Linked DNA regions of Homo sapiens: region 2 is linked to region 1. The links come from fine-mapping of genetic effects on gene expression. Tissue or cell type: whole blood. Region 1 holds a variant in brackets; the other region holds the start of a gene. All regions are shown on one strand. Distances are from middle to middle.

Evidence for each region. PIP is the estimated chance that this variant, and not a neighbour inherited with it, causes the effect.
Region 2: it holds the start of THEM4, and the variant in region 1 is fine-mapped to the expression of THEM4 in whole blood (TOPMed, PIP 0.94).

Annotation. Positions count from the first base shown.
Region 1 is chr1:151,869,015-151,877,120 of GRCh38, reverse strand. It overlaps THEM4 (thioesterase superfamily member 4), which reads left to right. Exons shown (of 6, transcript NM_053055.5): 5 at 1-120; 6 at 2,193-6,255. The coding sequence ends at 2,233. Among named protein-coding and RNA genes, the nearest start is that of THEM5, 19 kb to the right of the region's middle. The variant G/A (reference allele first, on the strand shown) is at 4,072.
Region 2 is chr1:151,905,819-151,913,924 of GRCh38, reverse strand. THEM4 (thioesterase superfamily member 4) reads left to right here and starts at 4,414. Exons shown (of 6, transcript NM_053055.5): 1 at 4,414-4,565. The coding sequence starts at 4,467. RefSeq lists enhancers at 3,442-4,029, 4,018-4,137, 7,129-7,668 and a silencer at 4,378-4,687.

The DNA.
Region 1 (8,106 bases):
TCCCTCTTTGTTCTGTTGTTATGATAAATAGCCAACTTGATAAAGTTGAAGGAAGGAAATTTTTTGTTTCCTGTAATGTTCAGAGTGTTGATGAGAAGACCCTATACTCAGAGGCGACAAGTAAGAAGCTGGTCTTATCTCTTTCTTGGGGTTTAGTTGGGTTGGGTTGGGAGTTTTGGTTGGTTGGTTGGTTGGTTGATTTGGGTTTTGTGGGGGTCAGGGGGGTGTTTTGGTTTGGTTTGGTTTTTTGCCCTGGTATTATAACCCATACATGCCAAAAAATTCTTAATTCCCTGTCATACAAAGAACAAGTTAAAGATATTCTTATACATTGCTAGTAAAGGGCAAGTTGCCAACAGCTATCAAAATTACAGCCCAATGCATAAGCTCATGCCTGTAGTCCCCGCACTTTGGTAGGCTAAGGTGGGAGGATCACTTGAGCCCAGGAGTTCGAGACCAGCCTTGGCAACATGGCAAGACCCCATCTCTACAAAAAATACAAAAAATTAGCGGGGCATGGTAGTGTGCGCCTGTAGTCCCAGCTACTTGGGAGGCTGAGATGGGAGGCTCCCTTGAACCCAGGAGACAGAGGTTGCAGTGAGCTGAGATCGCACCTCTGCACTCCAGCCTGGGTGACAGAGCCAGACCCTGTCTCAAAAAAAAAAAAAAAATTTACAAAGTGATATGCCCTTTGACCCACCTCCAGGACTTTATCTCACAGGTATAATAACTGCAAAATTATAATGTGTTAGATTGCTATCGGGTTCCAGTGATTGTGTCACTCATGCAACATTATTTGCAATAGCAAGAAAAATGGCAAAACGTAGCAAACATAGCTATCCATCAATAGGAGACTGGTTAAAGAACTACAGCTCACCTATGAACTATATTGTATGTGTGTGCCATTAAAAAATGGTGAAATATTGTGATACCATAAATAAGAAAAATATGTCTATATTTATGTGTGTGTAGACTGTCTCAGGAAAGTCACACACATGACCTGTTACTTCCCTGGAGTACTGAGGTTCATCCATGTTGTTGGCTGTGTTCACTTGTTTGTACCACTGTGTAATACTCCATATGTGACTGTCCCACAATGAATGTCTCTCTTCCAGTGACAGGCCTCTGACTATTACAAATGGGGCTGCTATAAACATTCTTGTTCATGTCTCCTGGTGGTGTGCATGGGCAAGAGCTTGGCATATACTTAGGAACAGAATTTCTGGGTGGTAGAGTATTGTGAGTATTCAGCTTTACAGAGGAATGCAAAATTGTTTTCTAAGCCTGTACCAAATTAAACTCCCACCAGCAATATATGAGATTCTTTAGATTCCCATCTTCTCTAGCAATTAGTGAAGTCAGACTTCATGATTTTTGCCAGTCAAATGACTATAAAATGACTTCTCGGTGTGATCTTGATTTGCATTTCTCTGATTACCTGTGTGGTTGAGTGTCTCTTCATATGTTTATTGACCATATTTTTTCCCATTCTGTGAAATTTTTGTTTGTTCAGCTTTTTTTCCATTTGTTCTCATTTTCTTACTGATTTATAGATGTTCTTTATATATTTTCTATTAGAACAATTTTTTGTTGGATATATAAGTTGCACATACCTCCTTACAGTGTGTAAGTTGTCTTTTATTTGCTTTAAGGTATCTTCTTTATGAACAGAAATTTTTAATGTCAATTTAGTTGCATTTATTACATTTTTCCCTTTATGGCTAATTTTTTTGTATCTTGTTTAAGAAATTTATTTTTCCTCTTAAGTATGAAGCATTTGCAGGAATGATGGATTTAAGGAGCAGGTGGAAGATAATAACTTAAATCCACAGTCAATTTAAGAACTCCATTCCAGGCTGTGGTTTGTACTTCCTGTCTCACTAAACCTTTCAATATCATAAAGGTGCCAGATGGCTCACTTGTAATTTTAGTTCTTTTCATTTCTAATGGAAGTAGTGAGGAACCATGAAATGGCCAAGTGGTGAGGACCTGGTTACCCAGGGAGAAGTAATACAGTATTGTGATAGTCAAAAGCTGATTCTTAATTTGGCTGAAAAATGAGAGTGGACAGATAGACTGAAGCTACAAATGTGAATCAAATCCTTCTTTTGTATATGTCTTTCTATTTAGAGTAGTCCATCAAATTGAAGTCAGTTGACATATAATCATCTGCTGTTATTTTGTTTGTTTAGGCTTATTTATAAAGCTGAATCCTGCTAAAAGTCTGACATAAAGAGCTGCTGGTGAACTCCATCTCATTCTCGCCCCTCCAGAAGAAGCAGTTGTCCCCCAAATACTCTGCTCCCTCACTGCTGAATCCCTGTAGGGAGAAGCCTGCCAACAGTGACCTTCCGAAACAGCCTTCTGAATACAAAGAGGATTCAGTTTCCATCTTCTCAACTTTTTAACACAGAAATACTTCCTGCGAGCATATCGACAACTCTCGGGCCAGGCGCTGTGGCTCACACCTATAATCCCAGCACTTTAGGAGGCCGAGGCAGGCGGATTGCCTGAGCTCAGGAGTTCAAGATCAGTCTGGGCAACACGATGAAACTCCGTCTCTACTAAAATACAAAAAATTATCCAGGCATGGTGGCGTACGCCTGTAGTCCCAGCTACTCAGGAGGCTGAGGCAGGAGAATTGCTTGAACCCAGGAGGAAGAGGTTGCAGTGAGCCAAGATCATGCCACATCACTCCAACCTGGGCAACAGAACAAGAACCCATCTCAAACAAACAAACAAACAAAAAAAAAAAACTCTTGTCTCCTTAGGATATGTTACCTGCTCCACTGCAGACTAGAGAAATAAATGTGTATTGAACCTTTTACTGCAAACTTGAAAATGCTAGAAAACCAAGCATGAAGAATAAATACATGGTGGGAAACACACAGGCATGTGCATATGCATATACATTGTAAGTTAGTAAGTTAGAAAGCTAGCTTTGTTGTATCTGAACACATGAATCTTTTTTGGTCAGTGTAGGAAGCACAGCCAGATCCTATAGGAATGAATACCTCAAATCTGTTGTCTGAGATTCTAGAGATTAAACCACTGTGCCATTTTTAACCCAGGCTGTACTGTTGTTTCTTACCAACAGCATAGGTTTTCATCACTGGAAGGAGCCTGTGTTCATTTCCTAGGGCTGCTGTAGCAAAGTAGTACAAACTGGATTGTTTAAACCAACAAAAACTCATTGTCTCTCAGTTCTGGAGGCCAGAAGTTCAAAATCAAGGTGTTGACCAAGGCCATTCTCCTGAAAGTGCTAGGGAAGGAGCTGTCCACGCCTCCCTCCTGGCTTCTGGGAGCCTCAGGTGTTCCTTGGCTTCTAGATGCATCATTCCAGTCCTCCATCTTCACATGGCATTCCCTCTGTGTGTCTCCACAGTGTCTTCCCTCTGTGCAGATCTATCTCTGTGTCCAAGTCTCCTCTTTTTATAAGGAAACCAGTCATAATGGACCCACCTGAATGACCTCATTTTAACTTGATTACCTCTGTAAAAAATGTATTTCCAAATAAAGTGACCTTATGAGGTATTGGAGATTAGGACCACAACATACCTTTTTTGGGAGGACACAATTCAACCTGTAAAAGAGCCTCAACAAAACTAAAAAATGAACGGAGAGTTGAAGGGGGCCAGCCCCTCCACACCTGTGGGTGTTTCTCATCAGGTGGGATGAGAGACTGAGAAAAGAAATAAGGCACAGAGACAAAGTATAAAGAAAGAACCCTGGGCCCAGGGGACCGGTGCTCAGCATACAGAGGACCCGCACCGGCCCCAGTCTCAGCTCTCTCAGTATTTATTGATTACTGTTTTCACTATCTCGGCAAGGGGAATGCAGCAGGAGAACAGGGTGATAGTGGGGAGAAGGTCAGCAGGAAAATCTGTGAGCAAAGGAATCTGTGTTACAAATAAGTTCAAGGGAAGGTACTATGCCCAGATGTGTACGTAGGCCAGATTTATGCTTCTCTCCACCCAAACATCTCAGTGTAGCAAAGAGTAACAGCAGCATTGCCGCCAGCGTATCTTGGCTCCAGCCACAGGGTGGTTTTCTCCTATCTCAGAATGGAAC[G/A]AACATAGGATCGGGTTTTACACCAAGACATGCTGTTCCCAGGGGCATGCAGGAGACAGAGGCCTTCCTCATCTCAACCACAAGAGGCCTTCCTCTTTTACTAATCCCCCTCAGCACAGACCCTTTGCGGGTGTCGGGCTGGGGGATGGTCAGGTCTTTCCCTTCCCGGGAGGCCATATCTCAGGCTGTCTCAGTGGGGGGAAACCTTGGACAATACCCAGGCTTTCTTGGGCAGAGGTCCCTGCGGCTTTCCACAGTGCATTTTGCCCCTGGTTAATTGAGAATGGAGAATGGCGATGACTTTTACCAAGCATACTGCCTGTAAACATACTGTTAATGAGGCACGTCCTGCACAGTCCTAGATCCCTTAAACCTTGATTCCATACAGCACATGTTTCTGTAAGCACAGGGTTGGGGCTAAAGTTACAGATTAACAGCATCTCAAGGCAAAGCAATTTTCTTAGAACAGATCAAAATGGAATTTCTCATGTCTTCCTTTCTACATAGACACAGTAACAGTCTGATCTCTCTTTTCCCTACAGAGACTAATGTTCTGGAAAATATATTCTGCTTCCTAGTGCAGGCAATAGATTATTTGGGCTTCCATTTCTTTCCTTTCTTTCCCCATATTAGAAATTTAAGCTGAACCATATGAAATCACTATTTCGAAGAACAGAATGGTCAAATATTGACAATTTCCTATGGTTCAACCTAATAACTTAGGGACAGCCTTGTGGTACCCTACCCAGTCATCCTTCCACAGCCAAAAGATCAGCTGGAGCCCTCCATTGCCAGAGCTGACTGACCTGGGATGGCCAAGCCAGAGGAAGACCCACATCCTGGAAGCCCTGTCTCTAGTGCCCAACTCCAGTTCTCAAGTTGCAAGGGCCCAGCAGACATGGGGGCACTGCAGGGGTGAAGCTGGCAGTTCCTTCTCCCAGAAATTCTGAGAGAGCCTGGGAAAGTGCCCCAGGAGATGGCTGGGCTCACAGCTCTACAAGTTACAGGTCTGGCAATGGCCACCCTCTATTCCCAGTCTTCCAACAAATCCTGAAACTTAAGAGAGTGGACTCTTACAATAATTATATTTCACATGTTAAAAAATATGACTCCGAAGGAATAAGCCAGCGCTGCTCATTTAGCTAGTTTCACTTAACTAGTTGGGAGGAAGTTTAGACAATGAAGGTACTGTACTCTCATCGTTAGATTTCTCTGGCAGGCTTGCAGAACTGCTATGGCACACCAGACCTCCAGCCAAGTGAAAGAACCTAACTGAAAGAGTGCCAAATGACCAGGTTTTCTTCATGTTAAGTATGCCTGCCTCCCTTCGTATCCACTTTTTTCCCTTTACAGTTTCATTTCTTACACTGGTTTGCTCACATCCAGGTTAGATGCTGCACAAGATCAACTAAGGAAAAAGCTCAGTCACTGTTAACATAGGGTTCCCCATAGCCAGTGAGGGAAAAATGGCTTCCCTGCTTTGCAGCAGACTATTCCTAGCCTTCACCATGCCCTGGCACTCTTGCTTTCCTCAGGTTGTATTTTGACAAGTATGTAAGATAACAAAAGGTGGCAGAACAGGTAGAAAGAAGGAGAGAGATGCTATCAGAATTGCCAGCTCCACTCCATCACTGGCTTGCTGTGTGACCTAATGGAACTATTCCTCATTTCCTGTTTCCTTCTTTTTCCTTTCTTTTTTCTTTTTCTTTTTTTTTTTTTTTTTTCAAGACAGGGTCTGGCTCTGTCGCCTGGGCTGGAATGCAGAGACACAATCTCAGCTCAATGCAACCTCCACCTCCCAGGTTCAAGCGATTCTCCTGCCTCAGCCTCCCAAGTAGCTGGGACTATAGGCATACACCACCAAACCCAGCTAATTTTTGTATTGTTTGTAGAGACAGGGTTTTGCCATGTTGCCCAGTCTGGTCTCAAACTCCTGGGCTCAAGTGATCTGCCCACCTCAGCCTGCCAAAGTACTGGGATTACAGGCATGAGCCACCTTGCTCAACCTGTTTCCTTCTTTATACCAAGTGCTAACATTTTGAATGAATATTAGGAATTGATGCTGGTTAGTGCTAAAATATCTTTAAACTATCAGTGTAAACATAATTAGGCCGTGAGTTTTTGCTCTTACTCCCAGGTTTCTAAATGTCTAAGAAACAATAAAATGAGAGTCATGTACAGAAATATATTGTTGGAAGAATTTTTTCAAAAAGCAAAATAAGATTAAGTTTTTTCTCTAATGGGAAGATGGAATGAAATATATAAGTTAAGAAAAACCTTTTCTTCTGTATTAAGGAAGCTCATATCCTACATGTTCCTATGTTCCCTATCCCATTACCTTCTCAGGACGCTTAACCTCTTCTGGGGACTTATGAAGCCAAATTATTGTCTTACCTAATGGATGACCATCATGGGACCCTAGTCAAACATATTTTTCAGGACCAAGTATACAACATCCTCTGTGATGGAGACAATGAGGCAATCTTTCAAATTTAAGTCACTAAAGTCATGAATTTTATGTCTCAGAAAAGTTTGAAATTTCACTTGATAGTATTCTTGGTCTGGCACTACTCTGGCCAGTTTAGAATTACAGAATTGGTTTATTCCTTCTCAATTATAGATTTAAAATTAAGTGGACTGCAGACAAAGATACCATAAGAGGAAAAAAAAAGTCAAAACTACAGATCAATATCCCTTACGAGTATAGATGCAAAAATACTCAACAAGATAACAAGCAAATCCAATAGCACATTAAAAAGATTATATGCTATGACCAAGTGAGATTTATCCCAGAAAGGCAGAGGTGGTTCAACATAAGAAAATAAATCAATGTAATACACCACATTTATACTTCAAGAGAGTAAAACCACATGATCATCTCAATTGGTGCAAGGAATGGCATTTGACAAAATCCAACACCCTTTCATGACAAAAAGCACTCAGAAAACTAGGAATAGAAAAAGACTACCTGAACATAATCTAGAAAAATGCACAGCTGGTATCACACTCAGTGATAAAAGACAGAAAGCTTTCCCCTAACGTTAGGAAAAAGGTAAGGATTTCCACCTTCACTACTGCTATTCAATATAGTACTGGAAGTCTTACCCAGAGGAATTAAGCAAGAAAAACAAAAACAGCTTGCAAATTAGAAAGGAAGATGTAAAATTATCTCTATTTGCAGATGACATGTCTACATATAGAAAATCCCAAAGAATTCACCAAAAAAACAAAACTAGCACTAATAAATAAATTCAGCAAAATTGCAGGGTACAAAACTTCATTGGCTGGGTGCGGTGGCTCAAGCCTGTAATCCCAGCACTTTGGGAGGCCGAGGCAGGCGGATCACAAGGTCAGGAGATCGAGACCATCCTGGCTGACATGGTGAAACCCCATCTTTACTAAAAATACAAAAAATTAGCCAGGCATGGTGGCGGGTGCCTGTAGTCCCAGCTACTCAGGAGGCTGAGGCAGGAGAATGGCATGAACCCGGGAGGCGGAGCTTGCAGTGAGCCGAGATTGCGCCACTGCACTCTAGCCTGGGCGACAGAGCAAGACTCCATCTCAAAAAAAAAAAAAAAAAATTCATCTTTTGTGCATTAAAGAATAATATCAGTGAAGTGAAAAAAAATCCCTACAGAATGGGAAAAATATTTGCAAATTATATATCCAAAAAGGTGTTCGCATTCAGAATATATAAGGAATTCTTACAACTCAACAACAAAGAACCCAGTTTAAAAATGGGGGAAGAACTTGAATGGACATTTCTCCAAAGAAGATATGGAAATGGAAATGGCTAACAAGTATATGAAAAGAGCCTCAACATCACTAATCATTAGAAAAATGCAAATCAAAACCACAATGACCACACCTACTAAAATGCCTATAATTTTTTTATTTTATTTTATTTTTTTTTTTTGAGATGGAGTTTCGCCCTTGTTGTCTAGGTTGGAATGCAATGGCGCGACCTGGGGTCACTGCAACCTCCGCCTCCCAGGTTCAAGTGATTCTCCTGCCTCAGCCTCCCAAGTAACTGAG
Region 2 (8,106 bases), 37 kb before region 1:
TGCAATTCCTCTTTTCAACCTCCTCTTTCACAGTCACCCTTCTTCCACTACTGAAAGGGAAGATGGACCCTTCACCCAGCCGGAGACTCATTTTGGTGCCTTGCCCCATGGATAACAATTCAAGAATACATCCTTTCCAAGAGTGAGACCTATGACAACAAATCCAAGAAAAATTCAGCAAGAAATATTAAAGCAGCTAGCATCACGCTGACATTCAGTTTTCTTATAAATGGAAGGTTTGAAATTTAACTTAAAATTTAGATGTGAAATGTTATCAGAGGTGCATTAATAAGTGCAATAATAAGAATACAAATATCTCATTATTTTAAATGGGCAAAATATTTGAATAGACGTTTCAATGAAGAAGATACACAGATGAAAAATAAGCCCATAGATGTCCTACATTATTCATCATTAGGAAAATGCCAATTAAAACCACAATAAAATACTTACACACATCTAGTTACAATGGCTAAAACATAAAAGATTGACCATACCGAAGGCTGGCAAGGATATGGAGGAACTGAAATCCTTATGCACTGCTGGTAAAATGATACAACAACTTTGGAAAAGTTTGGCAGTTTCTTAAACAGTTAAACATACATCTACCACATGATCCAACCATTCCACTCTTAGATATTTACCCAAGAGAAATGAAGGCATACATCCATACAAAGACTTGTACTCACAGCAGCTATATTTGTAATTCACAAAAACTGGAAATAAGCCAAATGGTCATCCATGGGTGAATAGAAAAATTGTGGTACATCCATACAATGGAATACTACTCAGCAATTTTAAAAAATAAATTCTCGACATAAGCAAAACATGGATGAATCTCAAAATAGTTATAGTGAATTAAAAAAATCCAGACCACAAAAAGTACATACTATATAATTCCATTTATATAAAACTCTAGAAAATGGAAATTAATCTACAGTGACAGAAAGTACTGTACGATAGAAGGGAGGATTTACAAAAGGGCATGAGCAAATTTGTGGGTAATATTTTGTGGCTCATTATCTTGATTATGGTGATGTTTGCATGAGTGTAAACTTGTATGAAAACATCCAATTGTATACTTTAAATATGTTCAGTTTATGTCAACTATCTCTTTTTTTTTTTTTTTTTTTTTTTTGAGACGGAGTCTCATTCTGTCACCCAGGCTGGAGTGCAGTGGTGCAATCCTGGCTCACTGCAACTTCCGCCTCCCGGGTTCAAGCAATTCTCCTGCCTCAGCCTCCCGAGTAGCCGGGATTACAGGTGCACGCCACCATGCCCAGCTAATTTTTGTATTTTTAGTAAAGACGGGGTTTCATCATGTTGGTCAGGCTGGTCTCGAACTCCTGACCTTGTGATCCGCCTGCCACAGCCTCCTAAAGTGTTGGGATTACAGGCATGAGCCACTGCCTCTGGCTTTTTTTTTTTTTTTTTTTTTGAGATGGAGTTTCGTTCTTGTTGCCCAGGCTGGAGTACAATGGCGCGATCTCGGCTCTCTGCAACCTCCACCTGACAGGTTCAAGCGATTCTCCTGCCTCAGCCTCTCAAGTAGCTGGGATTACAGGCATGCGCCACCACACCTGGCTAACTTTTTTTTTTTTTTTTTTTTTGAGACTCAGTCTTACTCTGTCGCCCAGGCTGGAGTGCAGTGGCGCGATCTTGGCTCACTGCAAGCTCCGCCTCCCACGTTCACGCCATTCTCCTGCCTCAGACTCCCGAGTAGCTGGGACTACAGGCGCCCGCCACCACGCCCGGTTAATTTTTGGTATTTTTAGTAGAGACAGGGTTTCACCGTGTTAGCCAGGACGGTCTCAATCTTCTGACCTCGTGATCTGCCCGCTGCAGCCTCACAAAGTGCTGGGATTATAGGAGTGAGCCACTGCGCCCGGCCTTAATTTTTGTATTTTTAGCAGAGACGGGGTTTCACCATGTTGGCCTGGCTGGTCTCAAACTCCTGACCTCAGGTGATCCACCCACCTCAGCCTCCCAAAGTGCTGGAATTACAGGTATGAGCCACGGTGCCCATCCTATGGCAACTACACCTCAATAAAGCTGTCTACAAAATTAAAGAATGGTGAGAAGACTATTAAGTTTCATACCATTGGCTTATTCGAAGCCTAGTTCTATCAAGATTGAACATTTGTTCCTTGCCTAAACCATACAAGCTTCAAACTCCTTCACTTCCATAGCCTATCAATCCTATTTCTAGACTGTAACCTGCCCTTCCTCTTCCAAATCTGACCAGACATTTTATATGTGCTGTCAACACGAATATCCCAGAGTAAGCCATGCAAGAGTGTGGATGACTTAACTAAATGCACTGCCGCTACTTGAAAAATTTAGAGTTAAAATTTAATGAAGTTTAAACTCAGTGTAACTGACCTCTAATTGCCCTAAGTCTAAGGTCTTTTAAGAAGCTGATAGGTGCCGAGTGCAGTGGCTCATGCTGGTAATCCCAGCACTTTGGGAGGCAGGCAGATCACTTGAGGTCAGGAGTTCAAGACCAGCCTGGCCAACAGGGTGAAACCCCGTCTCTACCAAAAATATAAAAATTAGCCAGATGTGGTGGCACGCGCCTGTAATCCCACCTACTCGGGAGGTTGAGGCAGGGAGAATCGCTTGAACCCTGGAGGCAGAGGTTGCAGTGAGCCAAGATCATGCCACTGCACTTCCAGCCTGGGCAACAGAGTGAGACTCCATCTCAAAAAAACAAAAGGAAGCTGTTAGGTGAGCTATTGGTACATTAATCATATAGACAATCTTAGCAGGGTTGAAGTCTATAGGTATTGATTGATTTGACTACACTGTAAATTGTAAATAGATGCAATTTTAAGTTACCTGAATAAACTTTTCTATTCATTAACAGTAGTCATCTCAATTTTAGAGATTTACGTTATGCTCGTGCCTCCATCTGCACGCACAACATGGGAAGACAACAGACACCAAAGATACTTTGGATTCTTGCTGCTAAGTAAGTATTCAAGCACTACGTGCACGTTGTTACAATTAATAAGGCAATCTGACCCCATCCCTGCCACCAGGAAACTGCAATACTATTAATATATTAAAAAGGAAGACAACTGAGATAAAGGGAATGTGGGAGGTTGGGGGGGGTGCTTAGGAGATATCAGAATACAACCTCTTAGAATTACAGAATCTCAACAACCATCCTTTATGCCTGATCTTCGGTTCAGTAGCTCTAGGATTCCAAGGGGCCCCTCCTAACTGCATTGCCTTCTCTCCCCAATTCCCTTTCTCTCAGAATGTTACACCTTCCCCCAGTTAATAGTGTAGGCTTAAAATGTATCTAGGTGTTCTTACCTACTGACAAACTGCTGGAGTTGTTCATGGGAAAGGAATCAAGGCAAAATATCTAATGCATTCAGGTCATTCGAGTTTTCTTTTTAATTTATTGCTTTTTTGAGATGGGGCATCAGTATGTTGCCCAGGCTGAAGTGCAATAGCAGTATCTCTGCGAGACTCTGTCTCAAAAAAAACCCATTAGAGTCTTCACCTTAGGATGGACTAGGGCTATGGCATACTGGTAAGCATTTAAAAATAAAGGGGTATGATGGCCCGGATTTGCATTATCTGAGTAATGGGAATACTCCAACCCAGTCCGATTTCAAGGTCCCAGTGAGGTTACTGAATTCGAAGCTCAGAAGGTATGCGCCTAGTATTCCCACCATACGAATACAAGCGAGGTAAGTAACCTCAAAAGCATCGATAACAGTAAAATAGTTACAATACCTGTTACGCCTTTAGTATCCATTACCTTCGTTTAATTTAACTGTCAGTTTACATAACAAAAGAGTCTTTTAAGGCGTAAGCGCGCTCCTGGGGAGGGTATGGGGCTGTTGGCAGGGAAAGCAGCTTTTCGATCGTATAAATGCTCTTTGTGCCCAGACTGCCCTCTATAAATCAGCACTATCAACCCTGTCCAGAGACTTGCCCATGACCTCCAAGAAAACACTTTATTCATACTACTCCTAGCGTGCGCTCCTACCCGCCCCAGGGACTTCAGTCTTCCGGGGGAGGGATAACTACTTGGGGACACGGAGCACTGCGTACGCCCTGGGTCATGTGGGAAGGATGACCGCAAAGCCTCCAGTCGGCGCGCGGGTTCCGGGGCTGAGGGGCTGAGGGGCCCAAGGCGATAACCGGGATCCGCTCCGGCCGCGCTCCTCTTGCCTTTGAGAAGCCCCGGAAGTGGCCCGGCTGTTGGCCGCAGCGGGAGGTCTTCGGAAAGAAAAGGCCGGAACCAGAAGATAGACTCAACAGCGATGCCCTACCCGGACCCCGCCGGCCTCACACCCCGGCCAGCCAGCCGCCAGTAGTGCGCACCGCCTCCTCCCCAAGCCCCGCCCTGCGTCCACCCCAGGGGTTAACTCGCACGCGCGCTCTTGTGGCGGAGGTAGAGTGCGCCGTCCAGGGCTAGAGCAAGCGCGGCCCCGCGGCCCGGAGCCATGCTGAGGAGCTGCGCCGCGCGCCTCCGCACGCTGGGGGCTCTGTGCCTGCCGCCAGTAGGCCGGCGCCTGCCGGGAAGCGAGCCGCGACCCGAGCTGGTGAGTCTGGGCACCCTCGGGCATGGGGCGGGAGCAGGACTCAGAAACACGCCTGCGGTAACAGAGCCTTCGATTGTTATCCATACCCCAACCAGCCAATCTCAGAATAAAAGCTCACCTGGGCACCACAGGGCAGCATAAGCAACAGGGGCCTAGGAATACAGTCCTGAGATTCAAACCGTTAGAAAAGGGATGGAAAGGTGACCCCGTTTTTTTGTTTTTTAAGAGACAGGGTCGGCAGGGCGCTACCTGAACTGCATAATTTAGTCTGTCTATTTATATTTTGACAACATCTGTATTTTACCAATAATATTTGAGGCTGTTTTTATTTTTCAAAGATTAAAGTGACGTGAACTAAAAGATACCACAGCTTTTATCTTCCCTTTAAAAAAATATTTGATCCAAACGCTTATCTTCCTTTAGGTCAATTAATTAGAGATCTTTTTATAGACATCACACACAACACATATATAACTACACAGACAGGCAGAAGAAAACCCAGTTGCCATAAGATCTTTCATCACAGGGAGAGGGATCTATCTGCTTTTAATTCCTGGGGTTCCATGAGGAAAACAGAGATCGCCCCTCTTATGCAGGCATTAAAAGTGGCAAGGCAAAATGGAGAAAAATAACTCAGTCGACCGCAAAGAAACACTTTTTCCAGCAAAATAAGGTCCAAGAAAAGGAAAACATAAAGGCCTTATAAATATAATTACAACTTAGATATCTACTTTTAATTAAGCTGAGCACTCCTTAAGAAAATTCTTTTAACACCCTTATTATCTAACTTTAGCTCCACCAAGCGGCCAATATTTCTGGCTTTCAAACTTTACTTAAAGGCTCAGAGAAAGGAAAATCCAAGGTGGTTGGTGGAGGGCAGGGGAATCGACAAATAGCGAAAGGGCATACAGATACCAAACCAGAAAGGACTCATTCCCTAAGCCAGGATGAATCTGGGCCATGCCGGGCTAAACGAAGCTATGCAATGGGGTTACAGGCCACGCCCCCAAGGACGTAAAACAAGATGGAGGCCTGCAGCGAAGTTTGCTGTGGAGCATACAGAAAGACATGCAAAACACACAGATTGGCTACAGCTTACGACTTACCTCACAAATCCTTTCGCACAAAACTTTACAGAAAATATAAACGGTAATCCTCATCATTCCCAAAAGAGCAAAACGTCTTCCAAAAGGAAAAGAAAAACCTCCTTTAAAAGTATACTGCTGATGGGTTGGAGAGGAGATAAGGATGCCTGGGGGAAGAACCTCTTATTCCTATGCAAATGGTTCCTCCACCAGAGAGAGGAGCTTAATTGCTGTGGGACAGAGCTAGACTCCCTGGAATGGGGAGGGGGAGACTGCAGGCACCTGGTAGGGAACGCCAGCCAGCCATGCCGGCGCCTTGGAGCCTGGGCAGTGGCTGTGGCTCATTTATGCCCTGTGTGGCTACTGGACACCACACACACATGCTGCAGACACCACCATGCACCCCAGCCAGTAAAGAAGTGGGGCCAGGGAGCTACCCCACCCAACTGTCTTGTGAGTGCACTGGTGACCATTGGGGTGGGTGTGGACCACCTCCAGTATCGTAAAAAGAAAAATAGGTGCCGTTGCTGTCCCCCCAAAAAGAAGAGGAATGCCATAAGACCAAAAGGCTCAGAAATGAAAGTGAGAGGTTTTGAGTCCCCATTTCACTCATCCTTCTGTTGCAGGAATGAAGGAGGACTGGAGAGGCCATGGGGTGAGACAGGAGAACTTTATTGAGTGCACTCAGACCCAGCGGACTAACATCCAAAAGCTGGGCCCAGAACAAAGACAGCACTTGACTTTAATACACACTTTTAAAAGGGGGTGGGCTAGCTTGAAACAAGCTTACAGTGGCGTGAAGCATAGTGGCGTGAAAGCAAGGATACAGAGGCAGCACAAAGGCAATTAATTCATCAAATTGTGACAGGTGCATAATTCAGGATTACATACTGTGTCGGAATTGATGGGTTCTTGGTCTCACTGACTTCAAGAAAGAAGCCACGGACCCTCGTGGTGAGTGTTATAGTTCTTAAAGGCGGCATGTCCGGCGTTTGTTCCTTCTGATGTTCGGATGTGTTCAGAGTTTCTTCCTTCTGGTGGGTTCATGGTCTTGCTGGCTCAAGAGTGAAATTGCGGACCTTCGTGGTGAGTGTTATAGCTCTTAAGGCAGCACGTCTGGAGTTGTTCGTTCCTCCCGGTGGGTTTGTGGTCTCGTTGGCTTCAGGAGTGAAGCTGCAGACCTTCGCGGTGAGTGTTACAGCTCATAAAGGCAGTGTGGACCCAAAGAGTGAGCAGCAGCAAGATTTATTGCAAAGAGCGAAAGAACAAAGCTTCCACAGTGTGGAAGGGGACCCGAGCGGGTTGCCACTGCTGGCTTGGGCAGCCTGCTTTTATTCTCTTATCTGGCCCCACCCACATCCTGCTGATTGGTAGAGCCAAGTGGTCTGTTTTGACAGGGCCCTGATTGGTGCATTTACAATCCCTGAGCTAGACACAAAGGTTCTCCACGTCCACACCAGATTAGCTAGATACAGAGTGTCAACACAAAGGTTCTCCCAGTCCCCACCAGAGTAGCTAGATACAGAGTGTCGATTGGTGCATTCACAACCCCTGAGCTAGACATAGGGTGCTGATTGGTGTGTTTATAAACCTTGAGCTAGATACAGAGTGCCGATTGGTGTATTTACAGTCCTTTAGCTAGACATAAAGGTTCTCCAAGTTCCCACTAGACTCAGGAGCCCAGCTGGCTTCACCCAGTGGATCTCGCACTGGGGCTGCAGGTGGAACTGCCTGCCAGTCCCACGCTGTGTGCCCACACTCCTCAGCCCTTGGGTGCTCGATGGGACTGGGCGCCGTGGAGCAGGGGGCAGCACTCATCAGGGAGGCTCGGGCCGTGCAGGAGCCCACGGAGGGCGTGGGAGGCTCAGGCATGGCAGGCTGCAGGTCCCGAGCCCTGCCCCGCCAGAAGGCAGGTAAGGCCCAGTGAGAAATCGAGCGCAGCGCCAGTGGGCCGGCACTGCTGGGGGACCCAGTACACCCTCTGCAGCCACTGGCCCGGGTGCTAAGCCCCTCATTGCGTGGGGCCGGCAGGGCCGGCTGGCTGCTCCGAGTGCAGGGCCCGCCAAGCCCACACCCACCTGGAACTCCAGCTGGTCCACAAGCACCCCGCGCAGCCCTGGTTCCTGCTCGCGCCTCTCCCTCCACACCTTCCTGCAAGCTGAGGGAGCCGGCTCTGGCCTTGGCCAGCCCAGAAAGGCGCTCCCACAGTGCAGCAGTGGGCTGAAGGGCTCCTGAAGTGCCGCCAAAGTGGGAGCCCAGGCAGAGGAGGCGCCGAGAGGGAGCGAGGGCTGTGAGGACTTCCAGCACACTGTCACCTCTCACTATGACCCTTGCTTATGCAGCCCAGGTGGCTGTTATCTAGGCTTGCTCAAAAGAGCCTTGCAAGTGCTTATCTCATAATCTTCACTATGGTGCCCAGACGGCCGCAGCCTAGGCCTACTCAGGCATGTCTTATA